2 separate regions of the Homo sapiens genome follow, and region 1 is linked to region 2. A link means that fine-mapping ties the variant in region 2 to the expression of a gene that starts in the linked region. Tissue or cell type: whole blood. Region 2 holds a variant in brackets; the other region holds the start of a gene. All regions are shown on one strand. Distances are from middle to middle.

Region 1 (8,000 bases), 230 kb after region 2:
TGATAACCTTGAGAAGTACCACAGCAATAATGATTTAGTTAAGCAAGTCAGGAATAACAGCCATCTCCCTTGAGTGCTTCTCCCTTCACTTCTGGCACTGGCCTCTCCTTACAGAACTGGATTTCACAAAAGTTCCTGGAGGGCAGCAGAATCCACAGGTCTAGTTTAAGCAATGTTTTAAACATGAATCTTTGCATCTGAAATGTAGTAGCGGAAATAAACAAATTATCATCATCCTACAGTTTACACTTGGCTCCCCAGCTTTCCTCCCCCTTCACACACCAGTGAGTTACAGTAGTTAGATAGAAAATATATCAGAAAAGCCACAATTTATAGTGTAACTTCACAATGAATCACTTGAACAGGCTGTGCATACAACAAATAAGTTCAGTGCTCCTATTTATGTGTCTCATAATTTCTAGGATACATAAAAACAAAGTTTGCTGCTCTTAAGATTTCACATTCTAAGAATATGTGATGGCATATGTAGTTCTGCTAAGAAATCAGTGTAAAATACACTTTTCAAATTGTAGCAAAGTATAATTCACAGTTACAGGCCCTCAATATTTTATCAATATATACTATCTAGACATCATATTGAGCATGCTATCAATAAAATCATATGGGCAAATAATCATACTATATTCACCTATGTAGCTACAAGATAGAAGTCACGAATTTTAACACTCCATTAGACTATTGCATCTGAAAAACTTACAACTGCCAACCATCAAAGCACAACTAATTTATCATCACACTCACACCATTCTTCCAAGTTACAAGGTCCAGTCCTAACACTTCTGATGACTCAAGAGCACAGAACAATTATACCTATAGAAAAATGCATATCCAAATTTAACCTTAATTTTTAAAGAATGGCTTCTTCTGATGTGTATTTTCTTAAGGATTAGACAGCAATGAACAAGGGCATACAATAGGAATACTTGATTCACCACCGTGTTCTATAACAAGTTGCATTATTATAATAAGTTTCTTTTTTTAAATAAACTCTATATTCTTGGTTTAAATGCTTACTATTCAAACTGCCCCCAAGAGCCAGTAACTGCCCACACTGACCCAAGGTGGTTTTAGTGAAAAGTCACCCATCAAGTTGCATTATTATAGTAAGTTTCTTTTTTTAAATAAACTCTATATTCTTGGTTTAAATGCTTACTATTCAAACCGCCCCCAACAGAGCCAGTAACTGCCCACACTGACCCAAGCTGGTTTTAGTGAAAAGTCACCCATCTTTGGAAACAAGGGCTTTTTCCACGAATATGCTAGAAATAGCAGGTGCACCATTACACAAAATTGGAGAGAACAGAAATTTACCTCACTCCTACAGACCATTTCTCAGAGCATGCTGTGTAGTTGCTAAAATCAGTATGCTGCGTAAAAGTTAAGAAAAAATGTATGTCTAACAGTGGTTCCCTATCAACTAGCCTCTGGTAGGCACTACATAAAATGCATTAAGACGGGTTTGCTGGATGTTCTGGCACCTATTATCAGGTGATTTTTTAACAGAGATGTGAAGATGCTTTTAGCAGGAGAATGGGCACACCAGAGAATACAGAATGTGGCTAATTACGACGAGAAGAAGATTCTGCCTTCACCTCCCCTCACTGTCAACCACTTTGCGTAAGTGCTCTCACTGCCTCGCCCTAACCCTGGGGATCCATTCACTTTTCATAGCTCAGAGAGGCTGCTGAAAAGCTGTCAAAGTAAATCTGTGCTCACTTTTTGGATGGTTTAATTTCAATGGAGCATGAAACACCCCAGGACGGTTAATAAGTTTAGCCAGGCGTGCTGTTATCCCTAATATATTTTAATTATGCATCTGTTTTAATTGTAATCAGATTAAGACACCGGAAGGACACAAATTGGAATTTTCCCTAATGGATATAGGGGCTTTTCATCACTTTCTGAACACTAATAACGTTTAAAAGATAGGAAGAGACACCAACACAACGGTGACATTTTCCAGAAATCGATGCAGTTTCTTTGACAACACAGTTCAGGTCTCATTAGCCACCCAAACTAACCTAAGTGCAGAAGACAACTTCAGTCTCTAGGGGCGTCTTCTTCTCCAATTAGTACAAAAGAACCACTAACATCTAATGTACAACTCCCAAACAGAAATGAGAAAGCCGAGGCTTTTATAAAGTGCTGCCCAATGGATTGGTGAAGGAGGCTAGGGCGGCGGGAGAGACCATCAGCAGCATTATTTTGGCTCAAAGTAAAAGTCTATACACGTTAAAAGGGAAAGTTAAAGCAGAGAACGATCTCCCTTTTCACAATTTTGGCAACTATCAAACGTGTGTTTTAACTTCGGGAAATAAAAGTGTCCCATCAATAAAAGGAAACGGGACAGGGAGGATCTATCAGGGATCGAGGAGAGGCTTCCTCCCAACCAGACGTAAAATCACTTAATGTGCTTTGTTGCATCAAGGAATACCTAAGACTTTAATTTAATACGTTCATTAAACAGTTTCCCAAATTGCCGGGATTTCCGCTAAGAAACTCAAGCGTCTGCCAACAGCCGAGAAGCAAGGGAGAGAACCTGCTGCAAACTAGGAGCGGAAACTCCCTCGGCCCGCCCAGCGCGCCTCACGTCCCCGGTGTTTGATTTAGGTGTTAATGTTTACGTGTCGCCTAAACCATCAGGTGCTGAACCAGTTCCTCCAAGACGCACTTTGAGCCTTAAAGAGGGAAGCTTCAGAGCCACTGCGGAGTGTGCCCCCTGCAGCCCGTCGCCCCCTCCTCTCGGCCCCTTACCTGTCATCATAGCAGAAATCCGCACTCAGGGTGTTGAGATACAAGGCGAGCCCCAGAGCGCTGCTCACCAACTCTGCAATCATCTCTCCACCGCCTTCCCTCCGGCTCGGCTCCCAGCGCGAGGGCAGCAGCGGCAACAAAAAACAGAAGCATCAATCTCCACCTTCCGCCGCCTTCTCCTCCCAGCTTCACTTTTCCCTCGCTTCCCCACCCTCCCTCCCTCGGGTCCTTCCAATCCACGACTCCTCTCCTCCTCCTCGCGCCCGTCTCCGCAGCTCCTGCGTCCTCCCCGGGTGCGGGCTCACACCACACTCCCCATGCCCGGCGCCCGCAAGCGGTGAGCGGCGTTTGGGCTCCGCGTCCCCCGGCGGAAGCGCAGGGCTGGTCTTTCGCGCGGGTCGCGATCCCCACCCTAACCCATGGCAGTTTGGGGCGTCCTAGGTGAGGAGTGGGACTCGGAGGAGGTGGAAGGGTGCGGGATGGGGGCAGAGGGACCGGACCAAGCCGGGCTCTGGGACCAGCTGGAGGAAGAGAGAGAAAGAGGCGCGGGTGGGAGGGACAAGGCGAACCGCCTCCCCTCGCCGCCTCCCGGGCGCACTGCTCCGGTGTCGCTCGGGCGGACTCCGGCCGCCAAGGCAGCTGCTGCACATTCAATGTTTATTAGCTCCCTCCCAGCCCCAGCCCCAGCCCCAGCCCCAGCTCCCTTCTCCAGTGAAGTGAGAAGCGGTGGCTGGAGACTCCAGAAGCTCCCGCGTGGGGTTCTCGACGCGGCCCCCCGCGCCTGCGTGACCAACCCTCCATCCCGGCTTGGCCCAGCCCCTTTCTCCACCCAGATCCTCCCGGAAGGCTCCTCCTACCCTGCCCCTCGGGCTGGAGGCTCCTCCCACCCTCCCCGGCCTGGAGGCTCCTCCTACCAGCCTCCCGTCCTCTTGTTTCTTTCACCTTCGATTTCACTCTGGAAAGCCCCCGGGACCCAAGGGCGACGGCTGGAAGACAGCCCAAAGGAGTAGATACAGTGCACCCTGGGAGGGGAAGCTGGGAGAAAGGAGGTCGAGGAGGAGGTGGTCGGTCGCCCCGCTGCTGCCTGGCAGCGCCTGGCACGGCTGAATCTCAGCCACAGCGCTGTGTGTGCCAAGAGCTGCCAGGCGTAAGTCCGGTCAGCTGGAGAGACTTCTGAGACCGGGAGAGGAAGAACAGGTTTGGCGACTGCTGCAGCTTCGGTTGTCACAAACTCACTGGCGATCTCTCACGCACACTGTGTGTGAGACTAAATGGGGGGGAGGAGGTAGTATTGGAGAGCTTGGAGGCAACTTAGGAAGGAGAGATTTCAGCTCTTAGCCTACGGTTGGCCACAATGTCAGTGGAAAGACGTGTAGGGAGAGAAACGTTTCCTCCTTCAGTAAGGTTAAAAAGAAAGGACCCCAAAAAGGGAAAGAAAGACACACACACACCCCGCAGCAACTGCCCGGGGACCCCTTCGTGGTTTCAGAGGGACTGTCGGGTTGACCCTGAGAACACAGGAGAGAAACCTCTAGTGCAAGCCGGTACAGCATTATACTTAAACCTAGTAAGGCAGTAAGCTAATGCCCTTTCCTTTCCGCTCGGAGGCAGGACTGGATGGAAAGCATCCAACATGGTGAAATATGGTGTAGAATGGTCTGTGTAGAACAAGCTCTGGGTACTAAAGTTGCAAGACCAAAGAGGACCCAGGGCTGCCTGACACGCCTCCTCCCGGCTTGTTGGCTTTCTGGCCAGGAGAGTAGCTCCGGTGCACCGCGATGTACACTACTGCAGCGCCCCCTGCTGCATAGTAACCACAAGGTGTGGAAGACAGGTCTGTTTTGCATGCGGGCCGACTGGTTCCAACCAAGAGCAGCACCTAACCAGCAAGCTCTCCGAAACTGTGGCAAGAAATTGAGCCCCCTGGGTGTCTAGCAGTGGCCTGGAAAGAAAATACCGTGGTCTGGGCTTCTGTAGAACAAAGCTACATATTTCCCTGATTTCACAAGGAAATCTGAGAAATCTGTATTGGATACACACAGATAAAATGATGAATATTTATTAATATTATACCTGTTATGCCATCCACAGTAGCACATTTTTTGTGCCCTGGACAAATATATGTAAACAAAAATAAAAGGAATTATGTCTTTACAGGTAGGGACTGATCTTTTACCCTTTTCCTCCATAACCTTTGCTCACTTGAAAATTTTGAAAATCATATCAGTTAGTCCATCCTGATGCTCTGTGTCTCTCCAATGCACTTACATGCTGAGATATATATAGTATATATAAAATATGTATATGGTGTCCTAGAACACTGAAGGAAGAACACATACTGTGGGATCAGATGTTTAAGTTTGAGTGCATACTCTGCTATTACTATTTGGGCGATCTTTGGCCAGTCGTTCAACCTCTTTGTGACTCTGTTTTCTAATCTATGAAACAGTGATAATAATAGTACTTATCTTATGAGTACTGTTATTATGAGTATTAAAGTAGTTAACCTATGTAAAATATCTAAAAGGGACCAGGAAAGTGCTACAGAAGTATTAGCTAGTATATCATTATTACTATGCTTTCTAGCTTCCTCGTTTCATTTTACTTGTTAACAAAAACCTGGACAGTTACCTCCAAAACACATCCTATCACATCTTTACTACTTGAGTCCACAGCCCAGCTGCCCTCATCTCCTGCATAGACAAATGCAGTAGCCCTCTAAGTGGTCCCCGTACTTCTACCCCTGCAATGCCTCCCTTCCCCAATTTTAACTTTAGGCAGAAGTTTCCTTTGAAAACCTATACATTCCCAATTTTTAAATGTTCCACAACTTCCTGTTGTATTTTTAAATGTCCAACAACTTCCTGTTTTACAGCTAATAAAACTAATTCTTACCATGGCCAGCCAAGCCTTCATTTAGCCCAGACTACCCCTCCCGCTTCATGTTGTGTTCATATGTGTACAACACAGACATCCTTCTCAGGAACTAACCACTTTCTCTTCCTCCTGCATGAGGTTCTTCTCCTCAAACCTTCTCTAGCTCCTTCTCACCATTCAGGTCTTAGCTCAAATGGCATAACCTCAGAAATAAAGTAGGCTCTCCCCCATCAATCTCTATCCAACCACCATGTATTAGTTTCTTCATAGTATGTATTAGTATCTGGAAGCACCACTGAGTGGAAGCTCCATGAGGTCAGGGATCCTGTCAGTCTTCTTTTCCACATAAAACCCAGAGCCTATAACATCTGGACACGGAGAAGAAACTTTAAAAAGATTGTTAATAAATGAACAAAATAAATGTGCTTAGGAGAAACTACGTAACAGCTGGAAAATCCAAAAATTTTCATCGCTGATTTATTGTTTGTCGTTAGTGTTAAAGATCGTGAAGTATTAACCAAGGAGAGAGGAAGGGAGCAGGTTCACAGTTTTTCAGAATACATCAAGTCTGCAGGAATACCCGTGAAGGGGAGTCACATGGACAGGTCTCTTCAGTTATTAAGAGGACTCAGATATGTAAAAATATTAGAGAGCTTTGGGTTCCACATGCTAAAAGCTTGTAAGCCTTTTCCACAGCTGTGTTCATTTTTAAGGCTCCAATAGTTTAATTTAATTTTTAATTTTTTTTTTTTTTTGAAACAGAATCTCACTCTGTCGCCCAAGCTGGAGTGCAGTGGCCCGATCTTGGCTCACTACAACCTCTGCCTCCCGGGCTCAAGCGATTCTCCTGCCTCAGCATCCCCAGTAGCTGGGATTGTAGGTGTGTGCCATCAAGCCCGACTAATTTTTGTATTTTTAATAGAGACGGGGGTTTTACCATGTTGCCCACGCTGGTCTTGAACTCCTGACCTCAAGTTATCCACTTGCCTTGGCCTCCCAAAGTGCTGGGATTATAGGCATGAGCCACTGCGCCCAGCCATGGCTCCAATAGTTTTAAATAAATTTTATACACTCCTCCATCTCCTCGTTTTCTCCTTTCCCCACCTCCCAATACCTCTGAATTGGAAGCCTAGGTGACTGGGAGATGGGCTGTAAAATGGCACATCTTGCCTTCCCTGATAAACAGAAGGCTGAAAACCTAGCTGTGTTTGAGAAATCCAGTTGCTTTTAACAAATTTTTCTATTATAATTTAATGTAGGTTTCAATATCCTTCCAGAGCATTAAGCCATGGTCTCTTTTAGATTGCTCTCCAAGGGCTGAGAAGCAGCCAATTCCTGAATTTTCTACCTTCCTGGAACAACTTTAGGAGGAAAATCAGATTAAAGATGTCATCATTATTGTTGGAGATCATTTAAAATCTGAGGACATAGGTTTTTAGTTTATCAAGGTGTACTTATTTGATGTAAGGTTGCAGCATCAGTTCTGAATATGTGTATGTTCTATTTAAAGCGACAGTTGCTCTCCACAGGTGAAGGAAATTAGGATGGCTGGCTTGAATTTTCTACCTTAGACACAATACTGGCCAAAAAAGCGCTAAGCCCTTATTTTCCTGAAGTAGGCTCCACACATCTGCTACCTCACCACTTCCTCAATGAATTCCTTTTTATAGTAGCCCCGACCTACCCTGCATTTGTTCTGCATTCTCAGTCCTTTGTTGTATAATTCATACCTTTGCAGTGCCAGTTCCTCAGGGTAAAGATTTCCTTATTTGCCTAAGACATTTTTAGTTTATTGTGCAATACTATCTTCCCTTTGGGTGTTGCATAAATATTAACTAAAGATCCACATCTGGTCCTGGTCGTCATTTCTATTTGTCCTAATATAACTTCTCTTTGAACAATTCATTTGGAAAGTGTGCCAAGGGTGAAATGTGGCACGTAAATTCTCTTGCTGCACAGAATGCTTTTTAAAGTGCCCACAGATTTGGTTATTTATGAGCAGGAGATTTGCGCCTCTTCCTTGCTCTCTCAATTCTAAAATTGTACTGGGCCAAAATAATTACAATCTTCCATATGTTTTCTGAAAAGGTATCCAAGTATCTCCTGCTAAAATTTTAACAGATTGACTAAGAAGCAGAAAAACACTAGCCCAGCAGGTGAAACTGCCTGTTTAGGGAGGTCAGAACAGAGCTCTCTGCTGGGGGACTCATAAGCTCTGGGATTTACTCAGGAAATAACCCTGCAGGAGAAAAACAGCAGAGCATGGATGAAATGTGGGTCAGGGAGCTGAGACAGGCACATGGGCGGCTTGGTTAACTAATGACTGTAAATGCATTGGCAACACATGT
Region 2 (9,989 bases):
AATACATGAATAAAATAGAGGAAGCTTACAGGGATTAACCTGAAACTGCAGTGAAGGGAAAAAAAAAGAGAAAGAGAAGGAAAAGGAAGGTAGGAAAAGAAAGGAAACAAAATAAAATTAAGGTCACACATCATCTTCTTTTAAAATAGAGATGCAGTTATGCTATATCCTACTTAAGGAATAAAAGGTTTTAACATACACTTAACCTTTTTTTTAGAAAGATAATTCAAAACAGATGTTTGGGATTATCTTCAAATTTTCACTTTGGTACTTATTCTTTGGACCACTCAAAGACTTTGTATTTTCATTAACATTTAATATAATGTGCATTTTTTACATGTTTAAGCCTGTATATTTTATTGGTGTATTCATTTCATATAATCTTTTAAAAGTGCAATTTTATTGAAATAAAATTCTCCAAGTTCTTTCAGTGAAGTGTGATGAAGTGTAAATAACAGTTACAAATGCTTTAAAAGTCCACATTTATTTTTTCCTGTTGCCCAGGCTGGAGTGCAGTGGCATGATCATGGCTCAGTGCAGCCTCAACCTCTTGGGCTTAAGCAATCCTCCCACCTCAGCCTCCCGAGTAGCTGAGACTACAAATGTGCACCACCATGACTGGCCTTTTTTTTTTTTTAATTTTAATTTTTGTAGAGGTGGGTCTCACTATGTTGCCCAGGCTGGTCAAAAACTCCTGAACTCAAGCGATCCTCCCACCTTGATCTTGCAAAGTGCTGGGATTACAGGAATGAGTCACTGCACCCAGCCTAAAAGTCCACATTTTAACAGAGTATGTCTATAGATGAATGCAAATCACACTTTCAACCCTGGATATAATATAATAAAGCATTTATCTGAAGTTCAAAAAATATAATTGTTGTTCCAAAATCCCAATCTAATTTTGAAAAGTTTTTTCCCAATGAAGTTTCCAAATATTCAGAGTATTCATTTCATTCCTGTTTTAAACAAAATAAACTTCATATGAAACTGCTCTAACTTGGAAGGGCTACTGCTCCATCTCAAGGGCCTGCATTGCAGCACTGTGACAGCCTAAAGAGAGCGAAAGAATGGGAAGGGGAGAAGGAGATGAAGAAGAAATTTTAAAAATTATAATAAAAATAACAACAATAATAGTATTTACATTTATTTAACAATTACTACATCCTTGGTAGTCTCCTCAATTCATTTAAACTAATACAAACATTTGGGGTCTATAGTATTACTATCCTCATTTCACAGATGAGAAAACTGAGGTTAAGCCTCCTAAGTAGCAGATGTAATAACAAGGAAGATTCAGATATGTTTCCAGGCATCCAAATGTGGTCAGAGGCAAGGCTATTTCACCCTCTCAATATTGAGTTTGAATAGAAGGTAGAATATCATAAGATGGTACTTAATATGTTTTAATAATTTTAATTTAGGGACTATAGCATAAATATGAAAACAAAATTATCCAAATGAGTTATCCTCTCAGAACTGCTAGGGGGAAAAAAAAACCCTCAGTAGTAACAAAATAAAACTATCTGGTATCCATATTTCATAATATATTTTTCAGACCAGAGAAAAATTAATGCCAAGTAGTATATCAAATGTTTTACATTTCTTTGGGAATATAATTTTATATGTCATATTTTCCTGTTAACATATTGGAACTGAACATATCCTGCCTACGTAAACAAATGGTTGTTGCTCAAAGATGCCGGCTGGGAACTTTGGTATATTTATCCATTCTTCTTAGTGCCCTGAAGATACTTTACATGTGACAGAGATTTAATAAGCATTGTTTAATAAGTAAGCAACTTCAATCCTAAGACTAAGCATATATAATTAGTATATTAAGAGAAGGCAAACAGACACTTCTAAATATCACTGGATAAGCTCTAGAAAATATGATCTGTGGAGTTATTTTATATTCAAAAATAAAAAGAAATTCTTCTGCTAAAAAAAATCAAGAAGTGAAGAAGTAGGAATAACTCTTATATCTCAAGGGCCCTTCACATTGATATTAAACTAAACTACCTCTAAAAGGTATCCATTTACTAAGAAACTTGATGTTAATTCACAATGAAAGCTTCTCTTGTACTTAGTCCACAGTCTGCCATGGTTTGATGTTCTTTGAAAGGCAGAAGAACAATTAAATATTCCCATCTTGCTGAAGTTGTTCTAAAGAGAAAATCAAATGTGAGGTCCCTCTAGAAATGCTGTGATCTGCTACAATAAATACCTCTAAATTTTTTCAAAGTTCCAATTTCAAATACATGGTAGTTTTAAGTTTATAGAGTAAATTCAAACTTACTCTGAAGTAACTATTGCAATTTCATATCTCTGATATACTTCACAAAATCAATACAGGGAGATTTGAGAAAGTTTTTTAAGATTTTTTCTTATGTTAGTAATTTGAAGAAATTATATATATTCATTAATTATAAAAGAAGTTATAATGAGTTTTTCATAATTTGGCATACACTGCTCTTTGAAAAAATAGCTAGAAGAGCAGAAAACAGACTAATATAGAAAATTGATACTTAGAGCAGGGTTGTTGCTATAACAACACCTGAAAATATGGAAGCAGCTTTGGAACTGCATAACGGGTGGAGGTTGGAAATTTGGAGAATCAGGCTAGAAAAAGCCTATATTGCCATGGGAGGGCTCAGAAGACCACAGAACTGTAGAGCTACCAGTGTACGATGCCAGTCTGAGAGAGCGGAAATGTGGGCTGAGCCCAGCAAAGCCATGGGCGTGGCAGTTCTCAGTGTCTTGAGAGCCCAACCCCTATATCAGTGTGCTCAGGATATGGGACATGGAAACAAAGGAGATTATTCTCCAGTTTTAAGACTTCGTATTGTTTTCCCTACTGGGTTATGGATTTAGTAGGGACTAGTTACTCTTTTCTTCTTTCCTCTTTCTCCCTTTTAGAACGAGAATGCCTACCCTATGCCTGTTTCACTGTTGTATTTTTGAAGTAGATAACTTGCTTTGATGTTACAGGCTCACATCTGGAAGGAATTTGCCTCTATACAGATCATGCCTTGAGCATCACCCATATCTCATTTAGATACGACTCTGGACTTTGGATTTTTGAGTTGATGGAAACAAGTTAAGGCTTTTGGGACTTTGGGGATGAAATGAATGTATTTTTGCATTATAAGAAGGACATAAATTTTGGGTGCCTGGTACAAAATGTATGGTTTGCATGTGCCCTGAAAACTCAGCATGCTGTAAACTTAATTCCCAATGTAACTGCATTGGGAGGTAGGTCCTAATAAGAAGTGACTGGGTCACAAGGGTGAAGCCCTCATGGATGCATTAATGTTAATACATGAGTGGGTCAGTTTTCACTAGAGTGAACTGTTATAAAAGCAAGCCCAGCCCCTCATGCTTTTTCTCTCATATGTGCTCTCTTTCTCTTTTGCCTTCTGTTACAGTTCAACCCTTGCCAGATGCCAGCACAATACTCTTGGACTTCCCAGTCTCTAAAACTGTGAGCCAAATACATGTCTTTGTGTTGTTTTGTTTTGTTAAAAAAGAGGCTGGGTGTGGTGGCTTACGCCTGTAATCCCAGCACTCTGGGAAGCCAAGGCTGTCGGATCACAAGGTCAGGAGCTCAAGACCAGCCTGGCCAACATGGTGAAACCCCATCTCTACTGAAAATACAAAAATTAGCCAGGCGTGGTGGCAGGCACCTGTAGTCCCAGCTACTCAGGAGGCTGAGGCAGAAGAATCACTTGAACCTGGGAGGTGGAGGTTGCAGTGAGCCGAGATCGCACCACTGCACTCCAGCCTGAGCAACAGAGCAAGACTCTGTCTCAAAGAGAGGGAGAGAGAGAGAGAGAGAGGGAGAGAAAGAGAGAGAGAGAGAGAGAGAGAGAAGAAAAGAAAAAAGATAAAATAAAAAGATAAATGAATTTCTTAATATTTAATTTTTACCTATTTAACATTCAGGTCTGCATAAGTAATCACTCCTCTTTGGGTTATCATCTCAGCATTTTCATTTTACTAATACACTGCACAGTCACTAAATGTGGTAAGGACTCTCATTCTTGTTTCGTGCTTCAGCTATAATTCATTTTAAACCTTACAAATTTAACATATGTCTTTGTCCCTATATGAAAATCTTGAGTTCTATGTAAGAATCTGCCAAAATTGAAGTACTTAACTGCATTAAAAAGGGGATAAATCCTAAATTTTGCTTCCACCAACGCTGAGTTACTTGTTTGAAATCAAAGTGTTACTTCCATGAGGAGGTAAAAATTGCAATCTTGCCAGTCATCTATCACAAACCGTCTGCAAAAGAAAATAACTTATTTGCACTTAATATAGTAGTGCTTAATATA[T/G]CTACTAAGAATTGTTTTTATTCAGATTAAAAGCCAATTTTGGCCAGGCGCAGTGGCTCATACCTATAATCTAGTACTTTGGGAGGCCAAGCTGGGCGGATTGCTTGAGTCCAGGAGTTCAAGACCAGCCTGGGCAACAGGGTAAAACCCCAATAAATACAAAACTTAGCCAGACATGGTGATGCATGCTGTAGGCTGGGGTGAGGGAATCGCTAGAGCCTAGGAGGTCAAGGCTGAGGTGGGAGAATGCCTTCAGCCTGGGAGGTTAAGGCTACAGTGATTTGTGATGGCACCACTGCACTCTAGCCTGGGTGACAGAGTGAGACCCTGTCTCAAAAAAATAAAAGCTGGCCGGGAGCAGTGGCTCACGCCTGTAATCCCAGCACTTGGGAGGCCAAGGCGGGTGGATCACGAGGTCAGGAGATCAAGACCATCCTGGCTAACACGGTGAAACCCTGTCTCTACTAAAAATACAAAAAAATTAGCCGGGCCTGGTGGCAGGGGCCTGTAGTCCCAGCTACTGGGGAGGCTGAGGCAGGAGAATGGCATGAACCCTGGAGGCGGAGCTTGCAGTGAGACGAAATGGTACCACTGCACTCCAGCCTGGGTGACAGAGTGAGACTCTGTCTCTAAATAAATAAATAAATAAATAAATAAAATAAAAGCCAATTTTAAGCTAGACTTGTGTATGCATATGTGATCTCTCCTAATCCTCATAACAAATGAGCTTACATTATCATCCAGTTTGTACTATTAATAGAAGAAGAAACCATGCCTTACAGAAGTGACACTCAAAAAGATAAGAGAACAAAAAGATGTGTCTGTCTGGTTCCAAAGTCCTTGCCTTTAACCATAATGGAAGTCTTGGACTTTGGATGTGCCCCATGAATGGTCTTACCAGCTACAATTTAAATAAATATTATTTTAAAATATAAATGTTAATTATGTTAAACTTTCTAATGTCAATGGAGAGAGAAAAAAAGGAAAAAAAGAAAACAAAGGGAGGAGAAAAAGAGCCATTTAACTGCATGGAACTGAAAACGAGCATGAATGTGTTGTTGCTGTTTTTTAAAGTAGACTGTCTTCCCACTCCATCTATTAGCAAAGACTATGGGGCGGGGTCAACACTTGTAGACTGAGCATTTTACTAATTGTATGATAGTCACTTCATGTGACTCCAGGGAAATAAGAGCCTTTGTAAGCCTACAGGAATTTATTTTTTCTGAAGAAATTATACCTCGGATTATTACAGAAAAGAACATAATAGTAAGTAGGTAAATAAAACAGATATAGTTAAAATATTAAGTAGAAGAAGTGGCTATGATTTAAAGATCATGATTCATATGTTATCACAACACATATCCTATGTACTTATATGTAATTCTAATTACAGGAATTCTACAAGATACAATTATTTCTCTTTCCCCTATCTGTAGTTATTTCAGATAGATCTGAAACTAAACGTATTCCCAATAAGAAAAAAATTTTAATGTAAACATAAAATTTAGTACTTCAATAATATATTAACACTGTTAGTCTAGACAGCATTATTTGTCACTATAACATCTATGTGCATACTGTAATATCCACATGTATAATCCAGCACCCATGTTCGTTTTGTTTTAGTGTATCTACGGTTGTTCCTTGGCATTTTACCATCTGCAATCTCTACCATATTCCTGAATTTGACTATGAGCCATCCTCACATCCATGGCTCAGGTCTGCTGCCAGTACCACTCATAGTGTTCGATTTTTATTTTGGGGTTTGCATGCACTTGTCTTCCATCCATTTCTTCTCTATGCAAAATTTTTCCCATGGCTTCTCAATTTTGCCCTATGTCCCTAATAACAATGTGCTCTACACAGTTTCTGACAAACTAGCACATGGTATTATAGTAAAGACAATTAATATAACTGCATTTTCAAATATAATGACTGGCCAAAGGGAGAGAATTTGGGAGCAACAAGCCTTGAGGCTCTCCTCAAATCACAGGCAACAAACCTATTTTGCCTATCACACTGTCAAAAGTAGTTAATGGAACACTTGGGGAATATATATACTAGAATGTCATAAATAGTGGTCCTGTTTATGTAACAACTATACCAATTCAGTAAAGGCTTTTTAGAAATTCCTCATATATGGCTGATCGCATAGCCCATGCAGTCATCCAACCAGTACCTTTTTTAATTATTATTTTTCTGTTTTAAATTTTTTCTCCATAAATACTGGGTCTTTCTATGTTGATCAAGCTGGTCTGGAACTTCTGGCCTCAAACAATCCTCCTGCCTTGGCCTCCCAAAGAGCAGGGATGACAGACGTTGAGTTGCTGTACGCAGTCTTGATTATTAACAATGATAGATTTTGTCTTCCATTAAAATACCAGTTCCTTTTGATTTATGGTAAATCCCAAAGAGTACAAGTTGCCTCTGAGTTTGTATCAGGAATAGAATTGTCTCCAAGCAGCCCTTACAGCTTGCTTCTAACACAATTGGGATCATTTGAGTTTGGTTCAGGTATAAAAGATGAAGAACCCTTAGAAAGACCAAGAGTTCTTAGACGACTTGTACAGAATTACGATTTCCAAACAACTTCAGGGGGAACAAAAAGAATCCATTTTCTCCCTTAAATTCCCTTTTTAATTTTATCGCCCAAACCACATCTGTTTTATCTCACAGTGGATCCAGCCATCAGGTATGTTCCTGCCACCTAATGGCCCGAGGCCCGAGGTTAGTTTCCTACTATAAGTCACTAAAGGAACTTTGATACAGAAACATAAAACAAAATGTCCGAAATCTACGTTGTAGTACTAGCCCTGTTACCAGTTAGATTTGGGTACAACCAAGTAAATTACTTAACTCTTCTACTTCCTATTTCATAGTAAAAGCAATAATTTAGTAAATATGTAATGTGGGACAAACCCTGGGCTAGGTATGCTATGCATAACCACAAGATGGTATTGCTATACTCACTCTATAGATGATAACACTAATAAGGAGGAACAATAACCACTATAAATGAGTTATAATCAATACCCACATCTACCTTACTGCAAAGTTTGGAATCTTTAACCATGCTCCTTAAGCATCCTGCCTCTCTTAGTTTCTCATCTGTAAAAGAATTGTAAGGCCGAGCACAGTGGCTCATGCCTGTAATCCCAGCACTTTGGGAGGCTGAGGTGGGCAGACCACCTGAGGTCAGGAGTTCGAGACCAGCCTGACCAACATGGAGAAACACCATCTATACTAAAAATACAAAATTAGCCGGGCGTGGTGGTGCATGCCTGTAATCCCACCTACTCAGGAGGCTGAGGAAGGAGAATCACTTGAACCTGGGAGGCAGAGGTTGCAGTGAGCCAAGATCGCACTATTGCACTCCAGCCTGGGCAACAAGAGCGAAACTCCGTCTCAAAAAAAAAAAAAAAAAAAAAAAAATAAGTGAGTTGTAATGATGCTTGCCTAAACTAAACTCTGAGTCACATATTAAATTAACATAGATGTGTAACTCCTTGGAAAGCACATTATTATGGAGATGGTATATTTCATTAATGGATTATTATATACTAAAAGCATAACCAATTCGATATACACTTTTATAGTAAATCTGCCCTATTCATTATCTATGCTCATGCTACTGAGAATCGCATTGCCAACCAAATCCAGGGCAACAAAAACATAACTAAAGGCAATATTGAATACTCTAAAGGTCAATTTTAAGATTTAAAAAATAATGAAAATCCTAAAGATTGCATCTTATTTTAAAAATCTGCTTATAAGTTATAAATATAGTACCTCTCAAATATAGTACATCAGGGAGAATATTCCATGTGTTAACTTCTATATGTTAATTTTTGGCATTCACTGTGATCAATCCAGTAGCTAGTGTTGAACAGGGCAAAAGTAAATACTAGAGAAAAGAGAATTTTTTTAAAAAAAAGAAATGATGAGTAAAAAATGCAAATAAAATATTTATGTGAGTAGAAAAATATTTACATGTGCTAATGAGGACAATTATTTGTAAATAACTGAGATCTCTAAAATAAAATATCAATTATCTTTGCTATATGCAAAAATCTTGGGCACGTATCATTTTAAAGCATTTCTTCTGTACTTTCAGTTGATTTAACAACAGAAAAGAATGGGAAGTTAATTTTCTTTGCCTTCTTTGCTGGTACAGGACAAGCAGACAAGAATTCTGAAGACTGTGCAAATACATGTCACCCTTGAACAACATAGGTTTGAACTGCCTGGTTCTACTTATATGTGGATTTTTTTTTTCAACCAAACACAGACTGAAAATACAGTATTTGTGGGATTTGAAACCCACGTATAAAGAGTACTGACTTTTCCTATATTCTGGTTCTGCAGGGCCAACTGTGGGAATTGAGTATGCAGGGATTTGTTTTTAAGTGTGTGGTCTTGGAACCAATCCTCCACATATATCAAGGGACAACGGTACTTGAGTATGAGCCATTTTTGTATGAACTGAAAAACATGATATTGAAATAGAGAATGCTGTTATACATATAAAAGTCTTGAAACTACAATTCAGAAAGTTATACTTCCATGTATTAAAAAGAAGCTAGTACCCAGAGGGTTAAGTAAGATAGAGGAAAAATCAGGAAATATGTCAAAACCAGTGATTAATGAATATTACCAATTAAAAAATATGACTAGATGTGTGGTCTTAGATATAAAGCCATATATTCTATTCATGAGTTTTAAATAATCTTGTCAGATTATTGACATGTCAGGATGATTAAAACTCATAGAGAAGCCACATTTTCCTTTCAAATAATCAGAACTGGGTCTTAGGATATACTTCTTTAAACCCTAATTTTTAACTTAAAACCTCAAAAGTAAATGTCTGCTCCAGGCTCAATGTGAGAATGAGCTGAGAACCAGCAAAAGCCAAAACCAAAGTATGATGGTCCTCTGCCCAAAGCAGTGCACAGCCTCTTGCTTCTGGAATGGTACCACAGAGAACAGAAGCATGGCATTAGGACTTTAGTGACTTCATCAACTGCCCTCAAAAACTATCTCAAAATCATTGTGCTAAAGTGTAATGGCAAAAGAAATTTTAAAATTCTGTACTGTTGCTTCCAAATAATAGCATTTCAAGAACAAAAAGTAATTTTAAATTTATCACTGTGATTAGAGATAAGAAAAATGCAGAATACATGGGTTTGTACAGTAATCGTAATATACTAATGTTTTCATTATGCAAGCACAGAAACTCCTTTCTAACTTAAAATTATTGTAAATATTTACATGAATATGAATATTACCACCCATTCTTTTTTTTTTTTTTTTCAGACAAGGTCTCAACTCTGTCACCCAGGCTGGAGTGCAGTGGCGTGACCATAGCGTACTGCAGCTTCGACCTCCCCAGGATCAGGTGATCCTCCCACCTCAGCCCCCCAAGTAGCTGCAACTACAGGTATGCACCACCACACTCAGCTATTTTTTGAATTTTTTGTGGAGACAGGGTTTCACCATGTTGCCCAGGCAGGTCTCAAACTCCTGGGCTCAAGTGATCCACCCATCTCTGCCTCCTAAAGTGCTAGAATTATAGGCGAGAACCACTGCACCCAACCACCATTCATTCTTAACCACAATTGTGAAGGTAACATGATGCCATCATCTTTGGAAAATATT

Evidence for each region. PIP is the estimated chance that this variant, and not a neighbour inherited with it, causes the effect.
Region 1: it holds the start of TMTC2, and the variant in region 2 is fine-mapped to the expression of TMTC2 in whole blood (INTERVAL, PIP 0.96).

Annotation. Positions count from the first base shown.
Region 1 is chr12:82,682,445-82,690,444 of GRCh38, reverse strand. It overlaps TMTC2 (transmembrane O-mannosyltransferase targeting cadherins 2), which reads right to left and starts at 3,539. Exons shown (of 12, transcript NM_152588.3): 1 at 2,776-3,539. The coding sequence starts at 2,858. RefSeq lists silencers at 2,519-2,578, 2,939-2,988, 3,559-3,658, 4,509-4,588 and enhancers at 3,699-3,908, 3,929-4,078.
Region 2 is chr12:82,912,595-82,922,583 of GRCh38, reverse strand. All of the region lies in intron 3 of TMTC2 (transmembrane O-mannosyltransferase targeting cadherins 2), which reads right to left. Among named protein-coding and RNA genes, the nearest start is that of TMTC2, 230 kb to the right of the region's middle. The variant T/G (reference allele first, on the strand shown) is at 4,335.